Homo sapiens: one gene and its partner. The protein of the gene in region 2 interacts with the protein of the main gene of each other region in a biochemical or structural test. Each region holds a gene or a part of one and is shown on either strand. Other genes may lie near its edges. The genes, in order: ACACB and HLCS.

The links.
Region 1: the proteins of HLCS (region 2) and ACACB are reported together in a solved structure, tested with the Homo sapiens proteins (one study listed by BioGRID and IntAct).

What each region holds. Positions count from the first base shown.
Region 1 is NC_000012.12:109,226,933-109,243,018, reverse strand, and holds part of ACACB (acetyl-CoA carboxylase 2), read right to left. Parts: intron 15,649-16,086; coding exon 15,530-15,648; intron 10,351-15,529; coding exon 10,213-10,350; intron 9,272-10,212; coding exon 9,172-9,271; intron 9,082-9,171; coding exon 8,974-9,081; intron 7,707-8,973; coding exon 7,650-7,706; intron 7,414-7,649; coding exon 7,372-7,413; intron 5,855-7,371; coding exon 5,639-5,854; intron 3,190-5,638; coding exon 3,034-3,189; intron 1,942-3,033; coding exon 1,738-1,941; intron 583-1,737; coding exon 427-582; intron 1-426. UniProt on the Homo sapiens protein: Mitochondrial enzyme that catalyzes the carboxylation of acetyl-CoA to malonyl-CoA and plays a central role in fatty acid metabolism.
Region 2 is NC_000021.9:36,746,089-36,762,174, forward strand, and holds the end of HLCS (biotin--protein ligase), read right to left. Parts: intron 13,754-16,086; coding exon 13,639-13,753; intron 10,893-13,638; coding exon of another isoform or gene 10,873-10,892; exon of another isoform or gene 10,668-10,872; coding exon 10,454-10,667; intron 8,330-10,453; coding exon 8,158-8,329; 3' UTR 2,538-8,157; downstream 1-2,537. Other genes in the region: SIM2 (single-minded homolog 2 long isoform), read left to right, coding at 1,577-2,004. UniProt on the Homo sapiens protein: Biotin--protein ligase catalyzing the biotinylation of the 4 biotin-dependent carboxylases acetyl-CoA-carboxylase, pyruvate carboxylase, propionyl-CoA carboxylase, and methylcrotonyl-CoA carboxylase.

The DNA of each region.
Region 1 (16,086 bases), on a different chromosome or scaffold from region 2:
TCTCAACACATTCATTTCTTTTTCTTCAATGCAGACCTTGTTCTTTTTTTTTGAAGACGGGGTCTCACTCGGTCACCCAGCCTGGAGTGCAGTGGTGACATCATGGCTCACTGCAGCCTCGACCTCCCAGGCTCAGGTGATCCTTCCTGCCTCAGCCTTCAAGTAGCTGGGACTACAGGCATGCGCCACCACGCCCGGTTAATTTTTGTATATTTTGTAGAGATGGGGTTCTTCAACTCCTGGGCTCAAGCAATCCTCCCTCCTCGGCCTCCCGAAGTGCTGGGATTATAGGCGTGAGCCACCGCACCTGGCAAGACCTTGTCCTTTAGACTAGGTCTTTAGAAGGAGAATTAAGGATGGGCTTTGGTTCTGGTGGAGTCTGCTGGGAGGACCCAGGGGGTACCGCGTCTGAGCCGCCGGACTTGCCTGCCTGAACATTTCCGGGAAGTCATAGATGTAGGTGGTTCCCAGGGTCTGGGCCTGGAATCGCTTGGCCTGGAGCAGATCCTTGGTGACGTAGGGAGTATTGATCAGCATCCCGTGCTGGGGCCCTTGCTTGTTGCCGAAGGAGTGAAACATGATCTGGACCAGAAAGGAGGGAAAACAGAGAGTGAGAGAGAATCACACATCTCCCCCAATTTATTTCTGCCCAGTCCTCAATGAAAATGCAGGTGGGGGAAGCAAAGCATGTCACATGGCATGACAAAGTGAGTGCCTGGGCTACGTAAAACTCCCTTCTTCACCACTGTGGAGGGCCAGAACAAGAAGGGACAACAGGGGCTGTGGAATGCAGTTCCAAAAATACAGTGATCAAGGCATCACACACTCCCAACAACAGGCATGCATGGAAACGCTGGTGAAATCCGAACGTGGTCAGTGTTGGTGCGAACAGTCCTGTGCCAATGTCAATTTCCTGTTTTAATGATGTGCAATGGTGAAGTTCAATCAACATTACCATTGGGGGAAACTGGGTGAAAATCCTCTGCACTATTTTTTTTCTTCTGTACTAATTTTGCAACTGCTTGAGAGTCTTCAGTCTTCAATTACTCCAAAATAAAAAGTGCATAGACCAGGCACAATGGCATGTGCCTGTAGTCCCAGCTACTTGGGAGGCTGAGGCCAGAAGATTGCTTGAACCCAGGAGTTCAGGCCCAGTCTAGGCAATATCTCTTTAAAAAATGGCGTGTATATATATGTATATTTTTATGTACACACATAGGAATTTAAATGGCAGTCAAAAGAACATTTAATTCACTTTACAAAAGTCTGTCCTAGAACATGGTTGGGAAAGTATTTCCCTAAGTGAACCAATCTGAGGACTGCATTACAGTCAACCACAGTAGTGCACAACTTATCCCAAATATGGCCATATGGCCAGGCGTGGTGGCTCACGCCTATAATCCCAGCACTTTGGAGGTCGAGGCGGGCAGATCACTTGAAGTCAGGAATTCGAGACCAGCCTGGCCAATATGGTGACACCTTGTCTCTATCAAAAATCCAACATGGCCACAGAATGGATTAAACTTGGAGATTCACTCTCCTTTTTAGGTGAGTGAAAAACCAAGATTCAAAGGCTAACACATTTAACATAACACTCAGAGGGGGCTACCCCAACCCAGAATGACATGGGAGAGCAAGGCAAGACCGCCTCCAAATGCCATCTTAATCTACAAATTGATGGCCCAAGCAGCCTGCTTCTGCTTTGACTTAGACCCCCACGGCGCGGGCCAGCCTTACATTTCCAGATCTGGAGTCAGTCACTTCTTTGTAGAGGCTGATGTCCAGGTAGTAGCCCGACTCATTGGTGATGAACAGGCGGATGGGAACGGCACTGCCGGTGGTGGTCTGGCGGATGTTGATCTTGACCTCAGCCTGTAGCACACGGAGTTTCCACAGCCGGCTGCCGTAGCGCATAACCATGTAGCGCACGGACTCCTCGATCTGCCCCAAAACACAGCAATTCCAGTTTCAGGGCCAAGACATCCCAAGGACATTTGCAATAGCACTGATACTAATAAGAGGATGAGATATACTGACTGCAAAAACGCCTGGGACATAGTGTGTATCCAACAAAAAGTATTAACTAATAACAAGCAACGGCTCTTGCTAAGCATTTAAAACTCTACCTCATTTTGCCTTCGTAAGTACTCAAGAGAGGCGAGCTTTTCTAATCCCTCACTGACAGATAAGGAAACTGAGGCTGATAAGTGACTGAACTAGTACTGCTATGTTATACTATCTTTACATGCCTTTGACTCAAGCCATTGCACTGCTTCCTTCTGGAACTACCTGAACTAGTGAGGCCAGAGCCTCCACATGGGTCCCCTGAATCCCCCAGATACCAAACGGATGTATCAGGACTTCTCTTTTTAATAATACTATTGTATTAATTATTTTTAATAATATATATTATTAAATAATAAAATAAAATACATTTATATATTTTAATAATATTAATATATCGATATTAATATTAATTTGATTAATAATCTTAATATTTTATTTTTTAATTTTTAAAATTTTTAGTAGAGATAGGGTCTCTCCATGTTGCCCAGGCTTGTCTCAAATTCCTGGGCTCAAGCAATCTACCCACCTCAGCCTCCCAAAGTACTGGGATTACAAGTGGGGCTTCTTTCATTCCAGAATCACCACCATAAAAGTCTGTCTGCTCGTGAAGAGCCACCTGACAGGGAACATTCAGCCACAGACCTCACGGTCTCACGTCTCTCCCCACCCACATGCAGTCCCCAGCGCAGCCTGGAACCAGGGAAAGGACAAAATTTTGTTTTGAAAGACATTTTGAGCATGCTTGTCATCCTTAAAGTAAAGCATTCCCGTGCAGGGCATGGCTAAAACATAGCTCTAGAATTGAATGGCAGAAGGTTTGCTCTCCTCCCGCAGCAACTGAGGCTCAGATACGCATGGTTTCATCCTGGAACCCAGGTCTTGAGTGGCAAGAGACAATACCCCAAAGCAGCATGGCTCAGAGGGTGAACCCAGAGCCCGGTGAGAGCCCCCCTGCAAAGGCGAGACCTTGAAGGGGTCCATGATGACAGTGGGCACGAAGTTGAGGAAGATGTGGTTGCAGTCGGTGCGCACGCTGGTGTTATTGAACGCCACCTCCAGCTCGTCCATGGCCTCCAGGAGCAGCCGCTCACCCTCGTTCTGCAGGTATTCGAAGGAGGCTTCCTGCCAAAGAGTGGGAGGGGCAGCTGCTCAGGCCAGGGGTGCAGGCCTACTCCCAGCTGGCTGGAAACTCAGCCCCAAAGAGGCAGAGACAGGAGGAAAACATTCCCCTCCTCCAAAAAGTGTGCCAGGCAAGAACAGCAGAGCCCTGCCTCTCAGAGGCGAAGGGACTGCAAAGCTGTTGAGTGTATTGACATGTGTCCTATTTTCTGCATTCTGACACTTTGACACCTGGGGCCTTGCTGACCCTGGATCATACCTGGGGACACAAACCACCTGCTCTAATCACCCAGGGCCAGATTCCTGAGAACCAGAGACAGCTTCTATATGCCAGGGTCTGCTGAGATGATTCACAGCCAATCCTAAACCTGTTTACTCAGCCTCACTTTTTTCTTCTCCAGGAAACCACAATCAAGGCTCTCGTCCACGTCTTCCATGTCTTCCCCTCTGTCCCTCTGCTGCCTGACCAACCCCAGAGCCTCCCCATGTGGCCCCATGGCAGGGAAAACCCCTTCTTCTTGGGAACTATGAGTAATAAACTGTCTTTTTGATGGCAGTTGTCTCCTTATCTGTTGGCCTCACCATACCTCAACAATAATAAAACCTATTAAAACGGCTTGGCCAGGCACAGTGGCTCACGCCTATAATCCCAGCACTTTGGGAGGCCGAGATGGGTGGATCAGTTGTCAGGAGTTCGAGACCAGCCTGGCCAACATGGTGAAACTCCGTCTCTACTAAAAATACAAAAATTAGCTGGGCATGGTGGTGGGCGCCTATAATCCCAGCTACTTAGGAAGCTGACGCAGGAGAATCGCTTGAACCCGGGAGGCAGAGGTGGTAGTGAGCCAAGATCACGCCACTGCACTCCAGCCTGGGTGACAAGAGCAAATCTCTGTATCAAAATAAAAATAAAACATCTAGCTGACAGGTAGCAAAAAAACTGCAGTTAGCTTAATATCCATCAATAGGGCCAGGCGTGGTGGCTCACGCCTGTAATCCCAGCACTTTGGGAGGCCGAAGTGGGCAGATCACCTGAGGTCGGCAGTTTCAGACCAGCCTGACCAACATGGAGAAACCCCATCTCTACTAAAAATACAAAATTAGCTGGGCATGGTGGGGTGTGCCTGTAGTCCTAGCTACTCAGAAGGCTGAGGCAGGAGAATTGTTTGAACCCGGGGGTGCGGAGGTTGCAGTGAACTGAGATTGTGCCATTGCACTCCAGCCTGGGCAACAAGAGCAAAACTCCATCTCCAAAAAAATATATATATATAATAATTATATATACATTTATATAAATATATATTTATATAAATACATATAATATGTATTATATTATGTATATATAATGTTATATAACATATTATATATTATATTATGTATATTATATGTTATATTATATAATATATTATATATATTATTATATATAATTATATATATAATAATATATATATGTTTCCATCAATAGGGGATTAGTAAAAAAAAAAAAAAAATTATACACGGTACATCCATGCAAGGAAATAATATGTGGTGGACCACTCTTTATTAACAATGAAAGAGGTCCACAAGTGACTGACCAATTAAAGAATAATATATTCAAATGATCTGTCCACTCTCAGCTCTTATCTGCAACTTATGCCTACAACTCTAGGTTTCAGGGACGGAATTGTGTCTAGAAACAGTCAACAACTAAGCTGGCCCCTCAGTGACAGGATTCTCGGTCCTTGCGCTAGGTTCTTAAAAATCGTTTTCAGTCTTATTTAAAATTTTCACAATATAATCATGGATTACTTCTGTTTCTTTTTTTCTTTTTTTTTTTTTTTTGTGATAGGGTCTCACTCTATCCCCCAGGCTGAAGTACAAGGGCTCCATCTCAGCTCACTGCAACCTCCGCCTCTCAGGTTCAAGCGATTCTCATGCCTCGGCCTCCTGAGTAGCTGGAATTACAGGTGTACGCCACCACGCCCAGGTAATTTTTGTATTTTTAGTAGACACAGGGTTTCACCATGTTGGCCAGGCTGGTTTTGAACCCCTGACCTCAAGTGATCCGCCCACCTCAGCCTCCCAAAGTACTGGGATTACAGGCATGGGTCACTGCACCCGGCCATGGATTACTTTTCTAAATGCAAGAAACAATGGAAAACGATCACTCAGTCAGCAAATATTAAGAAATTCCCTGAACAAACCAGTATTTTTCTATCCTGGAAATTTTCTTCTCATGCGCAGAGACCCACATAATACAAGAAACAGATCCAAGTGCCACCAGCCTGGACGTGATCACAGGCCACTTTGCTGTCCGCCTCCTGCCCTGGACTGGAGCATAGCAAGGGCAGGACCCTGGGTGTTGGTGTACTCTCCATCCCCAGCATGCAGCCCAGGACCCAGCACAGAGCAGGAATGTAAGGAAGGGAGGGCCAGGTTCTGAGAGAGGAAGAAATGCTCTGCGACATCTTACCTTTGTGATCAGGTCAGAGTGCCTGATGATGGCGCGGATGAAGAACCTATGGTCCGTCACTTCCACACCTTCCTTCACCTTGGCAGCACCCAGGTAAAGGTGCATCTTGTGGTTGGCACAGGGCACGGCGGTCAGATCGAAGTTACGCATCCGGTTAAGTTCCAGCTGGAAGGCCAGGGCAGGTTCCAAGTGACGGTAAATGCGATCTTCTGCAAACTGTAGGCGGACCAGAGAGAGAAGACAGACACATACACACACAGCGTGACGTTGGAGCTGCGTCCCTGCTTGGTCCACACCCTACTCTGCAGACCCCTGGTGTCCATGGGTTTGGCACTCAGGAATGCAGCATTCATGATGTTCCCTAATTGTAAGCTACCCCCAGGGCTCCAGATATTTGGGGTTTTGCTAAGATCTGAGGAGAGCTATGGGCATTGCAAGCCTGTTGTGCTGGGTGCAGCGCTGGCTCCTGGGGGAACCTAGCTAGTCCCTATCACCTGCCAGCGTGACCAGGCTGTTCTCCATCTGTCACAGCCTGTGGCAATTCTCATGAAGCCACTAACCCCTGGTTTCTTGGTGGAAATTGGTCCCCGAAAAGAAAGCAACTGACAGTACTGGAAACTAAACTGAAAAAAAAAATGAAGACATTAAGAAAAGGATGTGTCTTAGCTAGAAAAATAAAGCTTTGGATAAATTAAAATGCAAAATGCTGAATTTGGTGGGGTCTTGAATCAGTGCTGGGAATAAACCTACCTGTTCTACAACAGGGATCGGTAAACGTTTTCTTAAATGGCCAGAGAGTAAATGTTTTAGGCTGATGGATCATACGGGCTCTGTCACAACTACTCAATTCTGCTACTGTTAGAGTGAAAGCCAGAGTAGACAATGTGGAATCCAACGGGTGTGGCTGTGTTCCAATAAAACTTTATTCGTAAAAACAGGCAGCTGGTCTGCAAGTGAGTTTGCCAACCACTGTTCTAGACGAGCATAAGAAAAACAGTTTGGAAAAAATGTCTTACTGAGTACATCAGCAAGTACTGAAAATTATTCAAGCAAGACAGAAACCTGTAGTGAGGCTGAAAGGGCAAGATTCTCAGGTCTGAGTGCCATGCAGGGAACAGAGGGCTCTCAATGGAAATACAATCCCAGAGGAAGACTGCAGTCTACACAAAAGTTGCTACATTCTTGAATATGGGGATGCCTTAAGGACTGCAGACTATATTCTTCATGAATATCAAAGATGCCAGGGAGCTGGGAGGCACGGTGGCATGTGCCTATAGTCCCAGCTATTCGGGAGGCTGAAGCAAGAGAATCGCTTGAGCCATAAGTTCGAGTCCAGCCTGGGCAACATAGTGAGACCCCATCTCTTTTTTTTCCTTTTTTTTGAGACAGAGTCTCACTCTGTCACCCAGGCTAGAGTGCAGTGGAATCACCTTGGCTCACTGAAACCTCTATTTCCCAGGTTCAAGCAATCCTCCCACCTCAGCCTCCCAAGTAGCTGGGACCACAGGCTTGCATCACAATGCCAGGCTGATTTTTTAATTTTTTTGTAGAGACAGGGTCTCACTATATAACCCAGGCTGGTCTAGAACTCCTGAGCTCAAGCAAACCTCCTGCCTCAGCCTCCCAAAGTGCTAGGATTACGGGCTTGAGCCACCACACCCGGCCCCATCCCATCTCTTAAAAAATAAAACAAGATGCTAGAGAAGAGAAAACATCATTACTTTTGGCCATACCTCATCTCTTGCTCTGAATGTGAAAAACTTGGGAAATTCTTTCTGCAAAAAGAAATCCACACACAAGACAATTAAATCAAGCAAGACGCACTGAAATATGTACATCCTTATTTAGTGATTGTAAACGATTACATTCACTTCTAGAATGAATCATTTGGAAATCCTTCTCCTTTCTAATGATCTCTTTCACCCAAATCTACAAAATAAATATCAAATAAATGGCACACACCAAGGCTTGGAGAATGGGAAAGACTCATAGAGATGAACTGTGAACTAACCTCTTGGGCAATCAAGAATGTGATTCGTCGGAGTCCATAATCCACAAGGATATTTTTCTGCATTAAAAACCAAAGACACAATGGAATATTATTTGGCCGTAAAAGGAACTGAAGTATTGCTGCATGTTACCACACGGATGAACCTGTAAACATTATGCTAAGTGGAAGATGTCAATCATAAGAGACCTCCTGTGATCTGATTCCATTTATATGAAACGTCCAGAATAGGCAAATCTATATAGAGAGAAAGTAGATTAGTGGTTGCCTAGGGCTGTGGTGGGGAGAGGGTTTTTGGGTTGGGGACAGAGGGGAGTGACTGCTAACAGGTACAGGGTTTTTCTATGGAGTGATGAGAATGTCCTAAAATTGATTCTGGTGATGGTTGTACAACCTGGTGAATATACTAAAAATATATTAAATTGTACACTTTTTTTCTTATTTCTTCTAAAAAAAAAAACAGGATACATGTGCAGAACGTGCAGGCTTGTTACACAGGTATATATGTGCCATGGTGGTTTGCTGCACCTACCGACCTGTCCTCTAAGTTCCCTCCCCTCGGCCCCCACCCCCCGACAGGCCCCGGTGTGCGTTGTTACCCTCCCTCTGCCCATGTGTTCTCAATGTTCAGCTCCCACTTATGAGTGAGCACATGCGGTGTTTGGTTTTCTGTTCTTGTGTTAGTTTGCTGAGGATGATGGCTTCCAGCTTCATCCATGTCCCCGCAAAGGACATGATCTCATTCTTTTTTATGGCTGCAAAACTGCACACTTTAAATGGGTGAATTGTGTAGTATGTCAATGATGTCTCAATAAAGCTGTTATTAAAAAGATAATTAAAAAATATCACATTGTATACTGTAAATATATATAATTTTTTTTGAGACAGGGTCTCGCTCTGTCCCCCAGGCTGAAATACAATGGCATCACAGGCTTACAGAGCAACCTGCTGTTATTGGCACACTTGGTCATCAATGTAAGTAGCCATTTTAAAACTGCCAGTTTCTGGATTATTCCAACAAAAACACTCCCAGAAAATCTCCAAACTATTTATTGGGTGTGCCCTCCGTACCTGGGACTGGCTAAGCCGTGTATATACTTTGTCATTGAATCATTGCAACACCGTGAGCGAGAGAAATGCTGACCCCACGTTCAGCCACATCTGCCCAAGGTCGCCAGCTATGAGGCGAGCAGAGCTAGAGTGGGAAGCCAGGTCTGTGGCTCTGAAGTACTCAGCACGCCTGCCTCCCCAAGGGCCGCCTCGACGAGCCCAGCCCCTCCTCCTTCTCCAAGAACCCCCACCAAAACCAGAGGCACGCCCAGAGTACCTTGGACTGTACGAATGTCCGTAAAATCGGCACCAGTGCCTCATCCTCCAGGTGGTCTGCACACTGGATGGACACATTCAGAATGTGGATGGGCTCTTCTCTGAGGCTCTGAGAGGGAGAAGCAAGGGGTAGGGCTGGAAAGCCTGGGGGCCACGGCCCACCTGCTCCCCAGGTTGCTCCCTGGGCTTAGACGCTTACCTTGCAGTCATCCTCGGAGTATAGGGAGGTGCGGGCCTCGCTGAAGAGGGGGGTGTCTTTGGGCACGTTGGCGAAGCAAGAGATGACTTCATCAAAATTTCTGGGGGTGCGGGTAGAGAGGGAGGGCTGAGGGGCTGCTGACCCATGGGGATGAGGTCAAGCTTCCAAGCCAGGCAGCAGGGAACGCCAGACCCTCCCAATTTCCCAGCCAACACCCTTTGATCTTATCCAACTCTACAGAGCTCAGGAGGTTCCCTGTCTACTTTGTCCAGAGCACCCGTGATGGGGTCCTTCCCAAAAGGGAAGAATGAACCTAAGTGATCTGTGATCAGGAATACAGGGAAGGATTCCAGCGCTTTCAGGCATCAGCTGGGCTTGAGATCAACTCTTGGCTCCCATTTTTACTGGCTGGGAGATCCTAGAAACCTCACCTCACCCCGAGTCAAAGAAAGGTAATAAGAGTAATCCCTATGCCTCATGAGGCTGTTGTGAAAATTCCACAAGATACTCCAAGCACAAAGCAGAACACACAGTGAAAGGCTGAAAAAAGACTATAACAGTAACTATTGAGAGCTAACATTTAGTCACTATATTATCTGCATACTAATTATACTTTAAATATGTTATTTCACATATGTTATCTCATTTAATTCTCATGGCGCACCTATGAAGTGAGTCCTTTATTATTCCCATTTTACAGATAAGAAAACGAAGGTATGGAGAGGTAAAAATATTTTGCTCAGTCTCTTAGTTAGAAAGCACATAGCCAGAATTCAAACCAGGCAAGCTGACACGCAGGCTCACACTCTTGGCTACGATGCTCTTATTATTCTGTTGTTATTGATGTGCTGTGCCAGGCAAGCTGACATGTAGGCTCATACTCTTGGCTACAATGCTATTATTATTCTGTTGTTATTGACATGCTGTGCCACGTGTCTGGGTCTCTCCCACCCCATCTGTCCAGTGAATTGGGGGGGGATTCAAGGGAAGTCTGCCCAGCCCCCATGCTCAGGGTGTTGGAGACCGGGCCATGCTGGGTACCTGGTGAAGTCCTCGAATCTCCTGAAGGCTACCATGGCTCCCATGCGCTGGCACAGTGGGGAGAAGCCGCTGTCCATGAAGAGCTCTGTGCTGTGCCTCAGCAGGTCAGGGTTGGTGATGCTGATGGGCACGGTCATCCTGTAAGGTGATGGCAAGTCGGGGATGAGGCAGCTGCTTGCAGACCCAACTCTACGAGCTGCTCCTACTCCTGAAGCTTCAGTGAGCTGGACCAGATTTAGAGCTCTTCCAAATGGGGGCTTAAAATGGGCAGGGGATGAGACAATGGCTGGGGCCGGGGCCTGAGGAGGGTCTCATCTGATCCCTCAGGACCTGGTGAAGAGTAAGAGCTCAACAAGTGTAGGAATCAATGATTCATGCATGAGAGTCCAGTCTCAACACAGTCCCGAGGGGAGCCCCAAGTGCTGAACTTGACCACAGAGAAGAAACACTCCCAGCATCAATTTCTCCTGGAGAAATCCACCAGCCCCAGGCAGCTGGTGAGGCAGTCAGGCTTGGTCCTGACGGACACTCCAGTCCTCTGCTCCCTGTAATCCCTCCATCAAACTTGCCCTTGGGACAAAGTCAGCAGCCTTCTGGAGTTTAGACAACGATGCTCCCAGAACTGGCTGCTCACCAGCAGCAAATCTCAATGGGCCACCTGAGGTTGTTAGAATTGGGCCTTGGAATCAGATACGGGAGGGGTAATGAAATGGTGTGCAGGAAGTCAGCACAGCAGGCCCCACACTGCTCTTCTGAGAAAGGAGACCTGCTTGCTTGCAAGGACAGCCCTTGGCTGGCCTCTGGGAACTTGGACTTGGGGAAGGTTCCTATCGTTCCCTGAAGGTGACAAGGGGGGCTCACTGTGCCTCAACTGTTTGCACAAACAGTGTGGTTTATGCTGAACACCTGCTTTCTTCTGCAAGCCTGAGATTTCGATGCAGAGCAGAGGGTGATGTGACCAGCCACCAATCCCTGGTGCGGGGCTGGAAGACAACCCTTCACTTGTGTTGTCACAACTCCTTGCTGGGGGAATGAAGTGCACCCTGCGTGAATCCACTGGGAGAGGACCCTGGCAGCACACCTGCTTTCCTCTGGACTTCACCCTGATGCCTTCTGCCTTGGCTAACTGCTTTGTATCCTTGCCCCCTAATAAGTCAGAGCTATAAGCATGACTATGTCCCGAGACCTGTGAGTTCTCCTAGGCGATGATCGAACCTGGGGGTGCTTTTGGGGACCCTGACACAGGTGTGTGCATTCCTGTTGGGTGCTCTGAAATCACGATCATGGCCCCTCTGCTCCCCGACAGCTCAATCCAGGGGTCACAAACTTGCAGTGGCAGTGTGGCTGAATGCCACTCACAGAATGACTTTGGTCCATGCAGCATTTTAATAACATACATGAATTAACATGTGTTCATGTATTCATTTAACATGAATTACCTGTCCCCATTGAAAAATGGAAGGACTTCAGGTTAAAAAAAAATAGATTTCCTGCTTCTGCTGGAAAAAATCATGGAGAAGTCTGGTTGTGATGGTCAGTTTCCTGCAGGGCAACAGTGGGCAGAGCTAGGACAGCAGCCCCATCGCAGGGGGATGTAGCCAGTTCCCACCCAGCACAGAGGTCCAGGTCCAGGCTGCAGCTGGCACAAAGCCCTGCCAACTTCTCATCTGACCTTCCCTTGGGTCTCGGTGACCTAAAGCACCATGTGCCTGGCTCTACACACACAAGTGTTGAGGGCCAAGCCAGGCCATCTTGGGGATAGACTTTATTCCTCATGGCCCTTTACAGAGGCATTAAAGGGCTGGTTGGTGGGGGCAGCCGCAGGCAAGGTCTCTTCACAGGCCCAGAGTACATTTCTGGCACTGAGAGCAATCATGAGAATCTTAGATGGCCAGGAATCCCCCAGGGTCCTCAATGTCTCTCTGGGTCAAAAAAGGACCCTGTGCCCATACTGAAAATCACAACCAATAACCTGGATATACGTGTAGCTCACAAGGCATGACCCACAGCCCTCAGGAGAGCCGCCCTTCCCTTCCTAACAGGGCTGACTTGCTGGGACAATAAGATCAAAAGAGAAGGCCAGGCACAGGGGCTCGCGCCTATAATATCAGCACTTTGGGAGGCCGAGGCAGGAGGATCACTTGAACCCAGGAGTTCAAGACCAACCTGGGCCACATAGTGAGACCCCCATCTCTGCAAAAAAATATTTTTAAAGAATTAGCCAGGTGTGGTGGCGCAAGCCTGTGGTCCCAGCTACACAGGGAGCTGAGGTGGGAGGATCACATGAGCCCAGGAGTTCAAGGCTGTAGTGAGCTATGATCACACCACTGCACTCTAGCCTGGGTGACAGAACTAGACTCTGTCTCTAAACAACCAAACAAAAAAATCAAAAGAGTCCTTCTCAGGAGTAGACAGCTACAAAATATCTTACACCACCACTGCTCTCCAAATCCCCAGAATGACCCCAGGCTGCAAGCAGTCAGTCCCCTTTCTCTCAATGGGGTAAAATGTCACAATCCTATTTTTGGAAATAAGAAGGGTAAAAACAAATAACTAGGAAAGGCAGTGCCTCGTGGGGAAGCCCCCTTTTCTTCATCCAAAACATAGCAGCATCTTTCTTCTTAAAACCAACAGGAAAAGAAAGTTATTTTAAAAATCCTAAGAGGCCAGAAAAATCCCCGCTTCACCAAAGCATGAACCCTATTGCCTGTACAGATCTGATCAACCGAACTCCCAAATCACAATGACATCAATGCCGCCGTAGGTAAGGCCTTGGGCACCCCCATAAGAACTAAAACCAGAGGGGTGAGGGAGCGTGAGAGAGAACACTTCGAATCCCAAGGAGACATAATTACTTTAAGAGAAGGTATCCCACTCTACCTGACCTAAATGGTATTAATACTTTGGGTCCTGAAACAAGATGGACTGAAAAAAAGACTGTGAGTGAGGAACTCAGACACATCAGATATTTTTAGGTGAGCCAGGCATGGTGGCGCCTGTCATCCCATCACTTTGGGAGGCTGAGGTGGACAGATCATTTGAGGTTAGGAGTTCCAGACCAACCTGGTCAATGCAGTGAAACCCCATCTCTACTAAAATTACAAAAAAAAGTAGTGGGGCTTGGTGGTGCATGACTGTGGTCCCAGCTACTCAGGAGGCTGAGGCAGGAGAATCGCTTGAACCCAGGAGGCGGAGGCTGCAGTGAGCTGAGATCGCGCCGTTGCACTCCAGCCTGGGTGACAGAGTGAGACTCCATCTCAAAAAAATCAAAAAAAGATATTCTCAGGTGAGAACACTGAGGGTATCTACTGAACTACAGCTCTTGGACAGCAGACTACAGTGGACACAGACAGGACAGGTGCCCTCACACCTGGCTCAGAGGGCCCCTGAATGCTGTGGAAAGGACTTGGAGGTGAGAGTGTGGCCTGGGCTCAAATTCCCACTCCACGTGCACAAGCAGCTCAGCCTAGGTCAGGTGAGGGCCCAGGGCTCCCATCTGTAAAACGAGGATGAGAACACATTTTTGGCCGATAGAGGATAAGAGCTGAATAAAATAAGAGTGTGGGCTGGGCACGGTGGCTCACGCCTGTAATCCCAGCACTTTGGGAGGCCAAGGCGGGTGGATCATCTGAGGTCAGGCATTCAAGATCAGCCTGGCTGACATGATGAAACCCCATCTCTACTAAAAATATAAAAATTAGCCGAGCATGGTGGTGTGCGCCTGTAGTCCCAGCTACTCGGGAGGCTGAGGCAGGAGAATCGCTTGAATCTGGGAGCTGAGATTGTGCCACTGGCACTCCAGCCTGGGCAACAGAGCGAGACTCCATCTCAAAAAAAATAAATAAATAAAAGAGTGTGGGAGCACTGAGCAGAGTGCCCAGGCCAATGGCATGCCACTAGATGGTAATAACAGCGTTAGTCATGATCATCTCCGGGATCACTTACAGTCAACAACTTCCTTTGTGCCAGGCACTGTCTAAAATGCTACATGTGCCTTATCTCATGACTCTTCCCAATGGCTTGGGTGGCATTGTCTACTAGAACTTTCTACCATGACAGAATGTTCTAGAACTCCACTGTCAAATAATATGGCAGCCATGAGCCACCCAGTATGACTGAGAAGCTGAATTTTTTTTTTTTTTTTTTTTGAGACAGAGTTTCGCTCTGTCACCCAGGCTGGAGTGCAGTGGCACAATCTTGGCTCACTGCAACCTCTGCCTCCCAGGTTTAAGAGATTCTCATCCCTCAGCCTCCCGAGTAACCTGGGATTACAGGGGTGTGCCACCACGCCTGGCAAATTTTTATATTTTTAGTAGAGATGGGGTTTCACCAAGTTGGCCGGGCTGGTGTCAAACTCCAGGCCTCAAGTTCCTGATCTGCCCCCTTCAGCCCTCCGAAGTGCTAGGATTACAGGTGTGGGCCACCATGGCTGGCTCATTTGCATTCTTTGTTTTTTCTCTTTTTTTTTTTTGAGATGGACTCTTGCTCTGTCACCCAGGCTGGCGTGTAGTGGTGCAATCTCAGCTCACTGCAACCTCTGCCTCCCGGGTTCGAGCAGTTCTCCCTCAGCCTCCCGGGTACCTGGGATTACCAGTGCACACCACCATGCCAGGCTAATTTTTGTATTTTTTTTAGTAGAGATAGGGTTTCACCATGTTGGCCAGGCTGGTCTCGAACCCCTGACCTTGTGATCCACCCACCTCAGCCTCCCAAAGTGCTGAGATTACAGGTGTGAGCCACTACTGTGTTTGGCCTCTTTTTTTTTTTTTTTTTGAGACGGAGTCTCGCTTCTTCGCCCAGGCTGGAGTGCAGTGGGGCAATCTCAGCTCACTGACTCACTCTGCCTCCCGGGTTCAAGTGATCCTCCTGCCTCAGCCTCCCCAGTAGCTGGGATTACAGGCATGTGCCACCACGCCCGGCTAATTTTTGTATTTTTAGTAGAGATGGGGTTTCACCATGTTGGCCAGGCTGGTCTGGAACTCCTGACCTCAAGTGATCTGCCCGCCTCGGCCCCCCAAAGTGCTGGGATTACAGGCATGAGCCACCGCGCCTGGCCCATGTGCATTCATTTTAATGTAAATAGGCACACATGGCTACTGTACTGAACAGTGCAGGTGTAGGAGGTGGGCTCTGCATTATCACCATGTTAGAGGGGAGAAAATGGCGCTGCAGGGAGCTCCCACAGGGGAAGTGCTTATCGCTGATGTCTCCCCAGCAGCGTGCCCAAACACACTTGCCAGGTCCTTCCAGAGACAGGACGACAGAGGTCAGGAAGAACAGAAACACAGGCCGTCCCTGGGTGTGTCCCACTCCATACCGGTTTGGGTGGGAGGACGGCAGCATGAACTGGAATTCTACCACGCAGGTGCCGTCCGGGAGCTGCCGGTGCTGCAGGCTGTTTAACTCATAGGCGATGTAGCCCCTCCGCACGTAAACCTGACAAGGCAGAAACACACGGACATTCTCTCAGGGGCCACTGCAGAGTGTGCTCAAAAGCTGAGGGCACTCACGGGGAACAGGTACCAGAAATGACCTCTAAAATATCTATCTGTAAGCAGGCCGGGTGCAGTGGCTCAGGCCTGCAATCCAGCATTTTGGAAGGCCAGGGCAGGTAGGTCACTCGAACCCAGGAGTTCGAGACCAGTCTGGGCAACATGGCAAATCCCCATGTCTACTAAAAATACAAAAACTAGCCAGGCATGGTGGCAGGCGCCTGTAGTCCCAGCTACTCGGGAGGCTGAGGTGGGAGGATTGCTTGAGCACAGGATGTTGAGGCTGCAATGAGCTATGATAGCACCACTGCACTTCAGCCTGGGCAACAGAGAAAAATCCTTCCTCAATTAAAAAAAAAAAAAGATTTCTAAGCAGCAGTTA
Region 2 (16,086 bases):
GCGGATCACCTGAGGTCAGGAGTTTGCGACAAGCCTGCCAACAAGCTGAAACCCCATCTCCACTAAAAATACAAAAATTAGTTGGGCATGGTGGTGAGCACCTGTAATCCCAGCTACTCTGGAGGCTGAGATAGGAGGATCACTTGAACCCGGGAGGTGGAGGTTGCAGTGAGCTAAGATCACATCACTGCACTCCAGCCTGGGTAACAGAGTGAGACTGTCTCAAAAAAAAAAAAGAAAAAGAAAAAGGATGATGTGCCTCAGAAAAGCAGCACACCAGCCCCTGCTTAAGAAGACAGCTCTTGGAAGTTCCTCCACGCCTCTCTCGAGGCAGGTAGGGCTCTGCTCCTTCTGGGCCTCATCCTGCTTTTTCTGCAAATCCTAGGAATCTCTTGCTCTGTATTGTGACTTGAGGCTGAGATAACATTTCTTCCCAAATCTGAGAAGAGAGATAGATTACGGGAGAATGCCGCCTTTCTGGAAATCACTAGGACATGTTTTTTCAGAAGTAGCTAACTTAGAAAAGACCACATTGGTGACCAGGGCCAGGACCCCTGCCTTTTGACCTGGCCTGTCCCAGGAGCCACGGATCCCTTAGATTTGCATCTGCCATACCCGTGAACATCTTGGGCCCCTCATATAACCAAGGAAGGGATCTCCAGAACATCCAAGCAAAGGAAGACAAAGCAAAGGGTTTTGATAACAGCTGAAAGTATTACCCACTTGAGATTGACTTGAATTTGTGTGTCGGAAGCTGGCTAATGCTGTCACATGGTATTTGACTTTTACCACTATTTTAAAAGTGAAAGAGGTTAACAATCTCCTTATCACACACTTGATAAAAAGTGGACCAAAGGTGCTAATTTGAGGCAATTTGCGATCAGCTTCCTAGTCTTTTTGGTATTAAAGGAAGACAAATTTTGCCATATAGTGTTTAAAAACAAACAAACAAACAAAGACAAAAAAAACCCACAAGCCAGGGAGCTACTTAATGTCAGGCATCGGACTGAGTAGATGGGAGTGGTTATTTTTCATTATGACACGGCGAAACCGATCGGGGTGGTTACCACCCCTCTCCACTAAGGGACGGGCAGAAGAAATCAGAGCAGACGGGGGCCCTCCAACACCAGGGCCCCTGGTGGCCTCTAGACCTCTGCCGTCCAATCAGGTAGCCACCAACCCCGTGTGGTCTTGAACATGGAAATGTGGCCAGTGCAGTGAGGCAGGTGTGACCTGCGCTCTGCATCTCAGGACCAAAAAAAAAAAAAAGAAAATATCCCAATAATTGTTTCACACGGATTCCATTGAGAGAGTATTTTGGATATGCTGCATTAACGTGTATTACTTAACAGGCATTCCACCTGTTTCCCTGCTTTGTAACGCGGCTCCTGGAACATTTCAGGTCGCGTCCTGAGATTGGACAGCACGGCCTAGACTAAGGCGGGGGAGGGCGACAGCGACCCCGCGGGTGCAGCGCGTGGGCGGCCGAGGGGTGGTGGCTGCGCCCGGGGCTTGGGGGTGGGGTGGCTGCGGCCGCGCCCCTTGCTGCCCTCTAACGTGTCGCCTGTCCCCGCAGCGCCCGCCGCCGCCGTGCGCAGGTTCGGCGAGGACACCGCGCCCCCGAGCTTCCCGAGCTGCGGCCACTACCGCGAGGAGCCCGCGCTGGGCCCGGCCAAAGCCGCCCGCCAGGCCGCCCGGGACGGGGCGCGGCTGGCGCTGGCCCGCGCGGCACCCGAGTGCTGCGCGCCCCCGACCCCCGAGGCCCCGGGCGCGCCGGCGCAGCTGCCCTTCGTGCTGCTCAACTACCACCGCGTGCTGGCCCGGCGCGGACCGCTGGGGGGCGCCGCACCCGCCGCCTCCGGCCTGGCCTGCGCTCCCGGCGGCCCCGAGGCGGCGACCGGCGCGCTGCGGCTCCGGCACCCGAGCCCCGCCGCCACCTCCCCGCCCGGCGCGCCCCTGCCGCACTACCTGGGCGCCTCGGTCATCATCACCAACGGGAGGTGACCCGCTGGCCGCCCGCGCCAGGAGCCTGGACCCGGCCTCCCGGGGCTGCGGCGCCACCGAGCCCGGCAAATGCGCACGACCTACATTAATTTATGCAGAGACAGCTGTTTGAATTGGACCCCGCCGCCGACTTGCGGATTTCCACCGCGGAGGCCCCGCGCGCCGGTGCCGAGGGCCGAGGAGCGCCCGGGTCCGGGCAGGTGACCGCCCGCCTCTGTCCTGCGAGGGCCGGTGCGACCCAGTTGCTGGGGGCTTGGTTTCCTCACCTTGAAATCGGGCTTCACGCGTCTTGCCTTGTCCCCAACGTTCCACAACAGTCCCGCTGGGGGATTGAAGCGGTTTCACTCCGCAAATATCCTCCACTTTCAGGAGGGAAAACCCACCCTACCACAGTCCGCTCTTCCAAGTGGACGGCAGACCTGGGAGGGGACGCCTGTGTCACGAGCCCTTTTAGATGCTTAGGTGAAGGCAGAAGTGATGATTGTAAGTCCCATGAATACACAACTCCACTGTCTTTAAAAGTCATTCAAGAGTCTCATTATTTTTGTTTTTATTTAACCCTTTCTTCAATACAAAAAGCCAACAAACCAAGACTAAGGGGGTGACCATGCAATTCCATTTTGTGTCTGTGAACATAGGTGTGCTTCCCAAATACATTAACAAGCTCTTACTTCCCCCTAACCCCTATGAACTCTTGATAACACCAAGAGTAGCACCTTCAGAATATATTGAATAGGCATTAAATGCAAAAATATATATGTAGCCAGACAGTTTATGAGAATGACCCTGTCAAGCTTCATTATTACGTGGCAAAATCCCTCTGGCCCACACAGATCTGTAATTCACTAGGCTCGTGTTTGCTACAAATAGTGCTAATAAAGTTAAATTGCACGTGCAATACGGAACACTGTCAATGGACTGCACCTTGTGAAGGAAAAACATGCTTAAGGGGGTGTAATGAAAATGATGTAGACATTTTAAGCATTTTCTACACAGCGAGAAAACTTCGTAAGAACATGTTACGTGTGCAACAGGTAAACAGAAATCCTTTCATAAAGCACCAGCAGTGTTTAAAAAATGAGCTTCCATTAATTTTTACTTTTTATGGGTTTTGCTTAAAGATCTCAACATGGAAAAATCCTGTCATGGCTCTGAACTGCACAATGCATTGAACCGCCGTCCTTCAATTTTCTTCACACTATCAACACTGCAGCATTTTGCTGCTTTATCAAAATGGTTTATTTTAGGAAACTTTTTCCACCTTTCTGAATGGAAAGAGGTTTTCACAAATGTTTTAAACTCATCGTTCTAAAATCAAGTGCACCTACACCAACTGCTCTCAAAATGTGAACTGACTTTTTTTTTTTTTTTTTTGCCAACCCTGTGTCACTTAGTGAGGACCTGACACAATCCCTACAGGGTGTCTGTCAGTGGGCCTCATGGTAAGAGTCACAATTTGCAAATTTAGGACCGTGGGTCATGCAGCGAAGGGGCTGGATGGTAGGAAGGGATGTGCCCGCCTCTCCACGCACTCAGCTATACCTCATTCACAGCTCCTTGTGAGTGTGTGCACAGGAAATAAGCCGAGGGTATTATTTTTTTATGTTCATGAGTCTTGTAATTAAACCGTGATTCTTGAAAGGTGTAGGTTTGATTACTAGGAGATACCACCGACATTTTTCAATAAAGTACTGCAAAATGCTTTTGTGTCTACCTTGTTATTAACTTTTGGGGCTGTATTTAGTAAAAATAAATCAAGGCTATCGGAGCAGTTCAATAACAAAGGTTACTGTTGAGAAAAAAGACCCTATCATAGATTTACAAGTGACAACGTGGACAGGCGTAACAGAGTGTGTATGTACTTGAAAATGTGTACTAGTGAAAACGTCCTTGTCTAAACAAACTTCGTTTTCATAACCTAGAACATGAAGGAAGATTCTTACACGAGCTGGCTTCAGGACGGCCAGGGCTGAGTGTGAAGTCAGCAGAGCTGTTACTGTGGCAACCTAATATTGTGACCTCCATCTTGAAGAGTCTGCACATTTAAGCTGGGGATAGCGTTTCTTGACTTCTGTGAGGCTCCGGCAGGGGAAGAGGAAGCATTTTAATACATATGCCTCTCTTTTACAAAAAAGAAAAAAAAATCATCGTAGGCCCTAACATGTACCATGTTGACAAAAATGCCAGATCAAATGGATTTGAGAAATAAGCCCAATTCAAGGCTGGCTCAGCCCTCCACGGGGCCTCCCAGGGAAAGGAATTCCTTTATGTTCTTGGAAGCCCTTTTCTAGAAAAGCCATTCCATTCATACCTTTGTAGAGCAGTGGGCTGGGTGTGGAGGGCAGCGCGGAGGGTATCTGCAAGAGCCTGTATTTTCCGCCTCCCTTGCCCCCACTCCTTTTATCCTTTTAAAAGTCCTATCAGCCCTGCCTTCGTCCCTTCCGCCCTAAGCCCTAAGAGTGGGGGAGGTTTAATACGGCCAATGGATCTTGTATAAAGTCTACGTAAGTTTTAATTTACCAGAGCTATAAGATGGTTAAGGTAGACTAGTGGGGACTGCTACAGATAAAATGAGATACAAAGAACATTTGCAAATAAATGCCATAAAATTACAGTAGCTTGGAATTTTAGTGAATCATGGCCCTTGTGTTATCTAGAATGCTAATTATTCAAGCTGTTCCTAAACTTAAGTATGACATATAAGATTAAAATCTTGGGGGGAAAAACTGTTCAGATGAAAAGTCAAGTCAAGAAGTTTCCACAAAAGAAAAGAAAAATCCTAAAAACAATCTAGCTGTTGTTACATTAAATTTATTTCTCACCTCCATTAAAAGGGTTTTTGCTTTGGAGTTTTGTTAACTTTCGTTCTTTGGAGTAATAATATTTCTCTTGTGTATGGCGCTGAATACATTTGTCAATAATACGTCAAAAAAAAAAACACTTGGCTTCTTAATACTTGGAAATACGTACATATTCCTTACTATGTAAAACACTTTATTTATTTTGTAAAAATGTTTAAATATGAATAAAAATACTGTAACCCAAAGTAGTTGCCTACTTTTAAAAATGAAACTTGTAAAAATAAGAGGGAGCCCAAACCACATAGAAAGTCTTAGTTTATTTTGGTAGACTTGCTTTTTATAGGCATTGGTTTAAAGTGATTCTTTTCAGAGACATCCTTTGAGAAGTTAAAATTGCAGAGGCTTACGCTTTCTTTTATTTCAAATATGCATAGTGATTAACCAGGAATAAGGATTCTCCCATGTTCTGCCTGTTAAGAGCAAACAGATCTGGAGAACGGAAGCCCACCCTGCCTCCCTTTTCCATCTGAAGCAGTGCGGGGAGGCTGGCTCCTCTCTTTGTTCCCAGACTCCAGGGCAAGGGGCGACCATGCTGTATATGCTGTGCCTTGGGGGACCCCCAGAGGCTGCGCTCTGTGGCCTGTGCTCCCCCGACCTGTGCACCCGCACCCCAGTCGGCCACTTGCTCTCACATCAGGCAACGTCAGCCTGCTGCAGTGAAACTCAACCACGATTTTCCTTTGCACACAAATCCTTCCTACTTCCACCACTCCCTAGCAGAGTTCCCAGTGCCAGAGAGCACTGCTGGGGTGGGGGTGGGGACAGGAAGCCCAGTTATTGCTGTGTTCTATTTTAGGGGGCACTTCCTCAAGAGTCCCCTTGAAACCCGTTACCAGCCTGGAAGGGAGGATATCTTGCCTTTTACAAAATACGGTCGATACTCAATGCACAGCCTCTAAAACAAGGGCTACTCCAGTGTTCTAAAAGCACACGCCAATCCTGAGTTTAGTGACCACATTTTAAAGATCATCAGGAAAATGCCAAGTTCCCATTAAGACTTTAAAGCTCCTTGAGATCCCAGGTTGCGGGGTGCATAAATGGCCCAAATCGGAGAGTGTGCTATAGCAGGTAGACAGGTTTCGCTAACACGAACAGCTATCAGTAAAATGCCTTTATTCAGCTAATTCTATAGAAGCGGAGTTTTGAGAGTCTTTGGTTCATGTGAGGCAAAATCAGGTTTATGGAAAACGCAGCATCTGCTTCAAGGCTGCTTCATCTCTCTCAGGACAACTGAGTCTCCTGCGTGAGGGAGGAGCGCCTGCTGGAAAGCACAGAGCACAGCAGTATGCCCGGAACATCTCCATAGCCTTTGACAAGGCCACACTTCATTAGTTTTAATTTGCAGAAAGGAAATTAAATGATAACATTTTTTCCCAAAGCAGAGTGTCCAGAATAGGACTTCAGCTTAAAACAAAACATAGCATGTTTTTCATTAAATAACCCCCAAAGAAATTCAAAAAGTGATGATGGCAGCTCTGAGAGAGGGCTTGCCTTATATTACAAAGTCTGAGAAATGAAACCTACATCGTTAGCCTCGAGATCTTTGTCCCTGATGATATTCTGCAGATGCCCTCTCAAGGGTAAGTCCATTTTGTAATTTGGGGATGGTGTGGACTTGTATTTTACTTAAGTTTCTAACTAATTTTGAAAGAAGGCTTGGGCATTTGGAGAAGAGTGGTTTTTTTTGTGTTTTTTGTTTGTTTGTTTTTTGAGAAAAATAATTCTAATTGAAGCCTCATTTCCAAAAATTACTTTTTAAGTTCTTTTAATGTTTCATTTCCAAAAAATATATATTGGGTATTTTTTCATAGGGCTGTCCTGTGCCTGGCTAAAGGTAGACAGACTATACTAAAAACCACAAGTTTCTGGAATTAGCCTGACTGGGTAAGACCTGGATAAAGATGGTGCTAGTTTACAATGAAGGGATTTTGTTCAAAGCTGAAAGCTCCATCAAACTTTCTTTCCACTAATTTCAGCTGGGACTGGAAGAGAGAAAACTGGACAAAAATTGGCCTTTTAAAAAGCTGAAAAGTAATGAGTATGATTCATAAGTTCAACAGAGATAGGAGGGACATGGAAAAGGCATGGCGTACATCTGGGAATAGCGAATGCATATCAAAAGGCTTCATTTCTTTTGTTCTTTCATGAGGCTTGTAGCACATCAAATTTTGAATGTCTTCTTTTAAAGCTATGTGCGCACACACGCACGCACACACATATGCGGGCACACACACACATCCTCCCTCTGAACTGATGGTGTTTAGTATCGATAACATTTTCTTTCTTGGTAATACGAGGTAAATGAGGGGGGCAAAAACTTATGACTTCTGAGTAAAATGCCATGTCTTCTATATTCCGTGAGCTGCACAGTCTTGCAGGAATGCTCCACATTTCAGAGTAAATCTGAAACTGGCTTAAAAGCTCCAAATCCTCCCTTGTATGTGGTATGAGTGTGCCTTCATCTCCAGCTGTCAGAGCCAAATCGCCCACCTCCTCATCCAAGTGATGCCTAATCAGACATTTAAGGATTCTGAACTTGATCCTGTCTCTTCACAATATGTAGTAAATTTAAACTTACTTAAGAAAGTCAGTCCCTAACTAAGGACATTTAAACTTCCTTAGGAAAGGAGAGCTCACTGAATGATGTCAAAGTAATGAACTGATTTCCTCTACAAGGTCACTGCAACCACACCAGCTAGCTCTATCTCTACAGGCATTTAGACTTCGCTATGGGGCCACACCACCGGGTGGACAGTAACTCTTGGAAGTCTGTCTTCCCTTTTCTTCATTAATAAAAACACAGAACAATGACTAAGTGTCCAAGCATGTTCTTACAGTTCAGTACCTCCCCAGATGCTTACAAACAGTGATAGCATACCTCTAACTCACCACTGGCCTGGGCGCAAGAGCATATTTTGGTTTGTTTTTTCATAGACTAGGGGTAAAGGTCTGCACTACTAAGAAAATATCTGAATTTTCCCATTGTCATTTCCATGTAAAAACTCCCCTTGACAATAAACGTAAGTCCAAGCCACAGAGGGGAGAGCAATTTCCCACCTGTGGGAGGGCTTTCCCTAAACTAAATTTTCTACTTCTTAACCATCTATCCCAGAGCCTCTTCAAACACCAAAGAAAACGACAACAAAACAAACCTAAAAACAAACAGAAACACAGAAAAAGAACAAAGACTTAACAAATGAATTGGAGGAAAAGAAAATTCACCTACAACTCTAAATTAGATTTCCAGATGCATGGGCACGGACAGGCAGCCGCGTCTCGGGGACGCCCGGCATTACCGCCGTTTGGGGAGGATGAGGTTTCTCAGCATGTCGAAGGAGTTGCCGTCCGGGTGCACAGTCACAACCTCGCCGCCCTCCTGGTGAACCTGGAGGAAGCCAGAATCGTCCAGGCCAACGATGGACACCTTTGGTCCCTCTGCGCTGCCCAGATGGACTTGCTGACCACTGAAAAGGAAGAACAGCGTGCGGTCACTGGGAGGTGTCACAGGACGACTTAAGACAATGAGCTGAAGAATAATCCATGATGAGAGAGCTGGGCGTGCTGGGGAGAGGGCTGAGGCTCGCTGCAGGGAAAAGGCAGCCTGGGCTGAGCTCTGACTTTCTTCCACCCTGGTGAATGGTTTTAAGAACTGCTCAAATAACCAGCAGGATGCAAGTTCAACAAGGAGTCGAAATTTCTTCACACAACGTCACTCCTCCTAATTCTGGTCATCTGCGGTGATGGCTGGAACCACTTCCTCACCTCCCAGCGCTTTTAAGAAACACTGTGCAACTCTAGGTTTTTTGGCTGAGATTGGAGGAAAATAGGCCGAGTTGGCAAACAATGTTTTATCTTATAAAACAAAGTTGGCTCATATCAGCCACAAGTGAAACTCATCCTGATCCTACTTCTTTTGAATATTTTCCAAATGTACTCAAGTCACGTCCTTCTTAACAGCTTTCGAAGTATAGAATTTTCTCAAGTTTTTATTTTGAAGAATTTTAAATCTAAAGAAAAGCTGAAAGAATAGTGCAACAAACCTCATATTCTCTTCCATTCTCACACCAAATGAAAATATTTTCTGTATTTGCTTTCTTTCTTCACACATAAACACACACAAGCACACATTTTTTTTTCCTGCAACATATAAAGATAAGTTGCAGCTGGGTGTGGTAGCTCATGTTTGTAACCTTAGCACTTTGGGAGGCCAAGGTGGGAGGATTGCTTGAGGCCAGGAGTTCAAGACCAGCCTGGGCAATATAGTGAGACCCTGCCTCTACAAAAAAATTTTTTTTTAAATTAGCGGGCCGTGTGGCACACTCCTATTGTCTCAGCTACTTGGGAGGCTGAGGCAGGAGGATCATTTGAGCCCGGGAGTTCAAGGTTTCAGTAGTGAGCTATGATGGCACCACTGCACTCCAGTGACAGAGCAAGACCCTCTCTAAAAAAAAAAAAAGTGAAAATAAAAAAAGTTTTTTAAAAGCTGCAGGCATTGTGACACTTTCTGCTTAAATACTTTATCTCCTGAGAACAAGAACCTCCCATAAAATTATAATAGCATTAACTATGACCACTCAAGAAAGTCTGGATACAAACGGTCCATGTTCACGTCATTCCCACTGTCCTTTTAATATCCTTTGTGGCTATTTCCCTCCATCCAGGATCACACACATTACATTTAGATGTCATGCCTCTTTCGTCTTCTCTAATCCCAAACAATTCTGCCACCTTCTTTTGGTCTAATTGTTTGTGCGCAGACCTGACATTTTTGCAGGGCACAGGCCTGTTGTTGTGGAATCAGTGAGCGGTCCTCGGACTTCAGCTGCATGAGAATCCCTGGAGTATCTGTTATGACACAGGGTGCTGGGCCCAGCCCAGGGGTTTCTGATGCAGTAGCCCCTGGTTGAGGCTGAGGCTGCTTCCTGGGATCTCACTTTGAGAACCACTGTTACCTGGAAGGTTTGACAATTTAGATGCGTCTATTGTTTCCTCACAATTAGAATCAGATTAAACCAATGTTAAACTCTCTCACTATTTCGGTTCTTCCCATCGCATCCCACCAGGAGGCATAAGATGCCCGTTTGCTCCATTACTTGTGATGCTAACTTGGTCAAGGTGGTGTCCCTGCAGTTTCTCTAACAGAGACACAGAAAATAATCATTCAGACCAGTGCTCGGTCCCTCATTTTAAGATACTGAACTACGGCCGGGCGCGGTGGCTCACACCTGTAATCCCAGCACTTTGGGAGGCCAAGGCGGGCAGATCACAAGGTCAGGAGATCGAGACCATCCTGGCTAACACGGTGAAACCCCACCTCCACTAAAAATACAAAAAATTAGCCGGGTGTGGCGGCGGGCACCTGTAGTCCCAGCTACTCAGGTGACTGAGACGAGAGACTGAGGCAGGAGAATGGCGTGAACCCGGGAGGCGGAGCTTGCAGTGAGCCAAGATCGTGCCACTGCACTCCAGCCTGGGCGACAGAGTGAGACTCCGTCTCAAAAAAAAAAAAAAAAAAAAAAAAAAAAGATACAGAACTACTAAGATACTAATAAAGGAGTTGAAAAGAATGAAGATGAGCCAGCACTGACCTGTGGACCCAGTATCGGTAATAAAGGGGAAGGACGCTGTTGGGCCCTTTGTCCTGAAACTCTTTGATCAGTTTCTCCAGCACAGTCACGACTCTGGCGATGAGATAATCGGCTCTTAAGGGCTTCAGTTCTGCCTTGTGTTGTTTATTGTATTCTGTGATGAGGTCGTTGATGCAGATGGTAGGGTTACTGTTAGTCACATTAAATCCACAGCCTGGACAAAAACAAACAATTGAGCAGCTCAGCCTGTTGATGGCATCACACATTCCTCTCTGCCACATGGAAAAAGTTACAGTCTTGACTGTCAACTTCCTCCTTCCTTGTCCTCATTTCAGATTTCGTGTCTCTAACCACTTGAAGAGTGACATGTATTTCTGTCCATCTTCCTTTTTGTCCTTCTTTTATTATTCTTGTTCAAGCTAAAACCATCTCAACCTTACTGCAAATAAAAAGGTGGGAAAAAAGAAAGCCACATTTGATTCAATTTAATTCAATAGAAGCTATTAAATATGGGACAAAACGTATCAGTGTTGCCTCTGAAATAAGTGGTCTACCAAGCATTGTAGCTCTGCACTGAGTCCAGGAGAGAATAAAATCTCTGGTTTCTTCTCCTGCTTGAATAACAGATCCCACGCTTGAAAATAGAGTTTTATTCAGGACTTGGGAAGTAAACTCTGGACTCAGAGATTTCAAACCTTGGTCATGGCATAACCCTAGAAATGCATCTTTTAATACTTTATTCTTGGAAGTCTTTGGTGCTAAGGTTACGCTGTTGGCAAGACGCCGACTCATGTTCAGTGGCTTTTTGCAGGGTCCTAAACCAAGGCTTCATGAGAGTTACCAGGGATGGTGTCTGAATAGGCTTATCTGTGCAGTTACTTAACACCACTATCCTCTCCAGGCAGAGGGCGGTGTCTTCAGAAAAGCTGGACTTCAGTGTTCAGCAGGGCCCTGAATCGGCCTGCGAGAGGTCTTCAGTAAGAAATGAAATACTGCAAAAACTAAGCAGTAAGAAAACTACCATGTTTTCAGTGACTTTAAGAAAAAAAATCCCCAAAACATTCGCCACAGGCAGAACAATGCCATTTGTAACAACAGCCTTCCCGGCAAGTGTCCTGCCGTTTCCAGTGTGAAGGGAAGGATTGACTGGTCTCAGATTTTAAAACAATATACTGGCTATTAAAATACAAAGCAATTGTCAATTACCTCTGGAAAAAAAACAAGTAACTACAGCAACAGGGGCAGGACTTGCAGTTGCTCACGTATTCATTCATTCAATACATACAGGATCTGAAGCACCTACTGAACGTTCGTAAGGCATTAAATCAAGTGCTGTACAGCACTGAAAATTCTCCCGTGTTCAGAAAACTGGAATTCCTAGGAGGAGTAGCAACACTCACTACTGGCCACTTAGGCTATGTCCTTCTAAGGACCGGTGAGCACCCTGCTGGCTGCTCTGAATCCCCAAAGTCAGAGACCCCATCCTATGGCCTTCAGAATTCAATAAAAGCTATGGGTTCTCACCATAGGAAAATGTTTCATTCCCCTACTTTATTTTTTATTTTTATTTATTTATTTTTTGGAGACGGGGTCTCACTCCAGTTGCCCAGACTGGAGTGCAGTGGAGCCCTCATAGCGCACTGCAGCCTCAACCTCCTGAGCTCAGGTGATTTTCCCATCTCAGCCTCCTGAGTAGCTAGGACTACAGGCAGGCACCACCACGCCCAGCTAATTTTTTGTATTTTTAGTGGAGACAGGGTTTCGCCATGTCACTCAGGCTGGTCTCGATCTCCTGGACTCAAGCAATCCACCCACCTCAGGCTCCTGAAGTGCTGGGATTACAGGCATTGAGCCACCACACCTGGCCTATTTTTTATGTTTTATTTTTGAAACAGGGTCTCACTCTGTCATCCAGAATGGAGTGGAGTGGCTCGATCAAAGCTCACTGTAGCCTTGAACTCCTGGGCTCAAGTGATCTACCTGCCTCAGTCTCGCAAGTAGCTGGGATTATGAGCTCAAGCCACTACGCCTGGCCTTCGCTTACCCCACGCTGATAACATTTGTTAGCTCCCTGAAGCCATCCATGAGCCTGCTTGTGGCCCCTACCTAGGAATCTCTGCATCAACTGCAATTACTCACTTAAAGATAGGAAATGGGGGAGACTGGGCAAGTGGCTCACGTCTGTAATGCCAGCACTCTGGGAGGCCGAGGCGGGCGGATCATGAGTTCAGGAGTTTGATACCAGCCTGGCCAACATAGTGAAACCCTGTGTCTACTAAAAATACAAAAAAATTAGCTGGGTGTGGTGGCGGGCACCTGTTCTCCCAGCTACTTGGGAGGCTGAGGCAAGGAGAATCACTTGAACCTGGGAGGCGGAGGCTGCAGTGAGCCGAGATTGCACCACTGCATTCCAGCCCGGGCAACAGTGCTGGACTCCATTTCAAAAAAAAAAAAAGATAGGAAATGGAGCTTTAAGGGTATGAAGTAGCTTGCCTAGAATAATATTGCCCCTTGGTGGCAGAGCTGGTAACACAGGCCTTGTATTCCCTGGCTGGCACTTGAAACACATGGTTACATGTTTTTTGACCATTGCTGGTTTCTGAACACAGATTAGGTTCTACTGCCACAGAGTGAGGCTGATGACTGGACGGCCAGGAACCTAAGGACTTCTGAGATTGCCTCTGAATCCATCTTCTTGCCTGATTTGGATGTGCTAAGGTGAAACAGGGATTCTTTACCCCGCCTTGACCAGCATGGAGCTTCTTCTGAAGGTTAAAATGATGCCAGCTCTTTCATGGCCCAGGAAGGTCACGATAAGAATGCAAGACACCAGGAGAACTATTTAGGAAATTAACTTTTCTTTTTCTTATTACAGAATAGAACGTTAAATGTTTATTTTCACCATTTCAAATTCAATGAGTAGCAGGAGTGTGGAAGGATGTAGGAACATACCTGTTTGATGTGATACCACTTTGGTGGTTCCCGTGGTCACACACAGAAAATGCTAAACCCTGTGAAGTGCTTTCGACCAATCTCTCTGCATCTATACCCTGCTCCAAAACTACAAGACTCAAAGTAACCTCATATGATAATCTGCTCCTGCCAATGTAGGCATGCATAAACCGTCTTTATTTTTATTGTTTTATTAATCTAAAAATGCTGGGGGAAAGGTTTTTGAAACTTACCAATAAGTATATAAAATGTTTCTCCCATGAGTGTTGAGTTAACCAGAACTCCGCCGATCTTCATGAGGTCACTGTAATAAATATCGTTGGGCCACTTCACTCGTAAGTTGATATCCTAAAGGGAAATCTGCACATTAATTAAGCCGTCACAGGACACAAGGGGCCCAGGCAAGTCACTGAGCTAAGGGAAGATAAGCAGAAACCAAGGTAACATGGGCCTCGTCCTCTCCTCTTTTTCAGGCAGCTAATCACTTCTTTGGGACAATCCGATATTGAAGTGCCTCTTGGGGCCAGGAGGTAAAAGCCCTGAAGAACACAGTTGACATAAACCCCAGCATTCTTCCCCATCCCCCAGCACTGTTTCTCATCATCCAAAACCCTTTCTGAAGATGCTTACCTTGTAAATGAAGTTCATTATGTCAGTATCCACCACCACCACCACCATGGAGTAGCTAACTAACGTGCTAGGGCCAGAGGGTGGGGAGAGAATAGTAATCTCAGGGGGCGTCTCCCTTCAGGAACCCATGCTTGAGAGACAAAGATGGCCCTGAATTAACCAAGGTCACAAAAGGCAGGTAGAAATGTCTTGAGTAGCAGGCAGTGGCCAGGCGCGCTGGCTCACACCTGTAATCCCAGCACTTTGGGAGGCTGAGGCGGGCGGATCACAAGGTCAGGAGTTCGAGACCAGTCTGGCCAACATAGTGAAACCCCATCTCTGCTAAAAATACAAAAAATTAGCTGGGTGTGGTGGTGTGCATCTGTAATCCCAGCTACTTGAGAGGCTGAGGCAGGAGAATTGTGCGAACCCGGGAGGCGGAGGTTGCAGCGAGCCGAGATCGTGCCACTGCACTCCAGCCCAGGTGACAGGGCGAGACTCTGTCTCAAAAAAAAAAAAAAAAGAATGCTGTGAAGATGCAGAGGAGAAATTCACCTTAGCGAAAGCCTCGCAGAACTGCTAATGGTCATCTTGGGTAATGGAACTGGACTTGTCATGTGGCCTATTGCCTCTGCGTCTTGAATGGTGTGGCCTGGGGGTGGGGGGGCTCTCCCTGTCATCAGCTTACAGAATGGACCAACACTGGACAGTGTCTCGAACAAGGCCACCCAGGCCTCTGCCTATCCACTGTGACTCTGAAGTTGGGACACAGAGACGGGGCTAGCCGAGTGGGTGTCAGAACCACCAGGTCTTTTAGACCTCGGGCTGGCAGCCAGGCTGTGCCATGTGTGGGTAAAGGAAGCCTGTCTGGAGATGCAAGGCTGGAAGAGAACATTCAGCAAAATAAAGCTAAGGGAGCAGAGAGTAGCTGATGGCCTCCAAGGGCCACGGGGCTGGTCTTCCCACGTTGCAGGCCGGGCATGGCACCAAGCACCTTCTCAGCATTAGTCTACGTGTTACTCACACCCAGCCTATGTGTTGGTGCTAGCGCATCCCCAGGGAACAGAGGGAGAAACGGAAGCTTAGAGAAATTATGTGGCTTGCCTGAGGTTATAGCACTTGAAAGCCACGGAGCTAAAATTCAAACCTTTCTGCCACCAGGCCTGGGTGAGGAATCCTATGCTACGCGGCCTGTTGCTTCCATGAAATCCCTTCCTCCTTCCAACAGGCCTTCTTTTGACTTCGGCCCGTTAGAGCATATTGGAAGCTCATCTGCCCTAAAACAGTAGTTTAGGCTGAGAGAAAAAATACAGGAATAGGAGCACAGGAGAACAAAAAGTCTAAGTAAACCAAGCATGGGGGGTGCGCAATGACCCAGAACTGATCAACAGCTTCACGTTTCTTTTCTCTCTAGAACGGGGGTTCTCAGTGGGAGAGGGGTGGATTTGGCGATACTGGGAGACTTCCCTGGTTGTCACAGCCTGAGGGAGTGCTACCGGCGTCTAGAGAGTAGAGGCCGCAATGCTGACACACATCCTTTAAGGCACAGGACATCCCCACGACAAACATGCCAGGGCCCACATATCAATAGCACTGGGCTGAGAAAGTCTCCTCTAGGAAACCTGTGTCTAGGAGGCTCTGCTCTTCATCACTGCCCCCAGTTCCCTTTCCTTCCCCTCTCTCGCCTTCCCACATCCCCCTGTGCCCACCACATGGCCAGGGGAATGAGCCCCTGCCTCGCCGGCGGGAGGACACCTGCAGAGTTCCCAGAGCTGTCAAGCTCCTCCGCCACGTGCGTGGCAGCTGGTGCCTGGGCGGGCCCTGCACTTGGGCTCCAGCTCGCCTTCATGGCTTCAGATCTCCTCGGCTCATGAAGCAGCTCATGAAACTCTGGGTTCTCACGCAGGTAAACAGGACCAGCATTTCCACATGAAGAGGAGGACTGTGTGCTCATTTTTCATTTTCTCAATCATTTATTCCAACAGCTGCTGTGATCCTCCCACATAAAAAAAGACCAAAATGAAACAAATCCTGCTTTTGAAGAGCTGCTAACATCATGGGAGACGGAACAG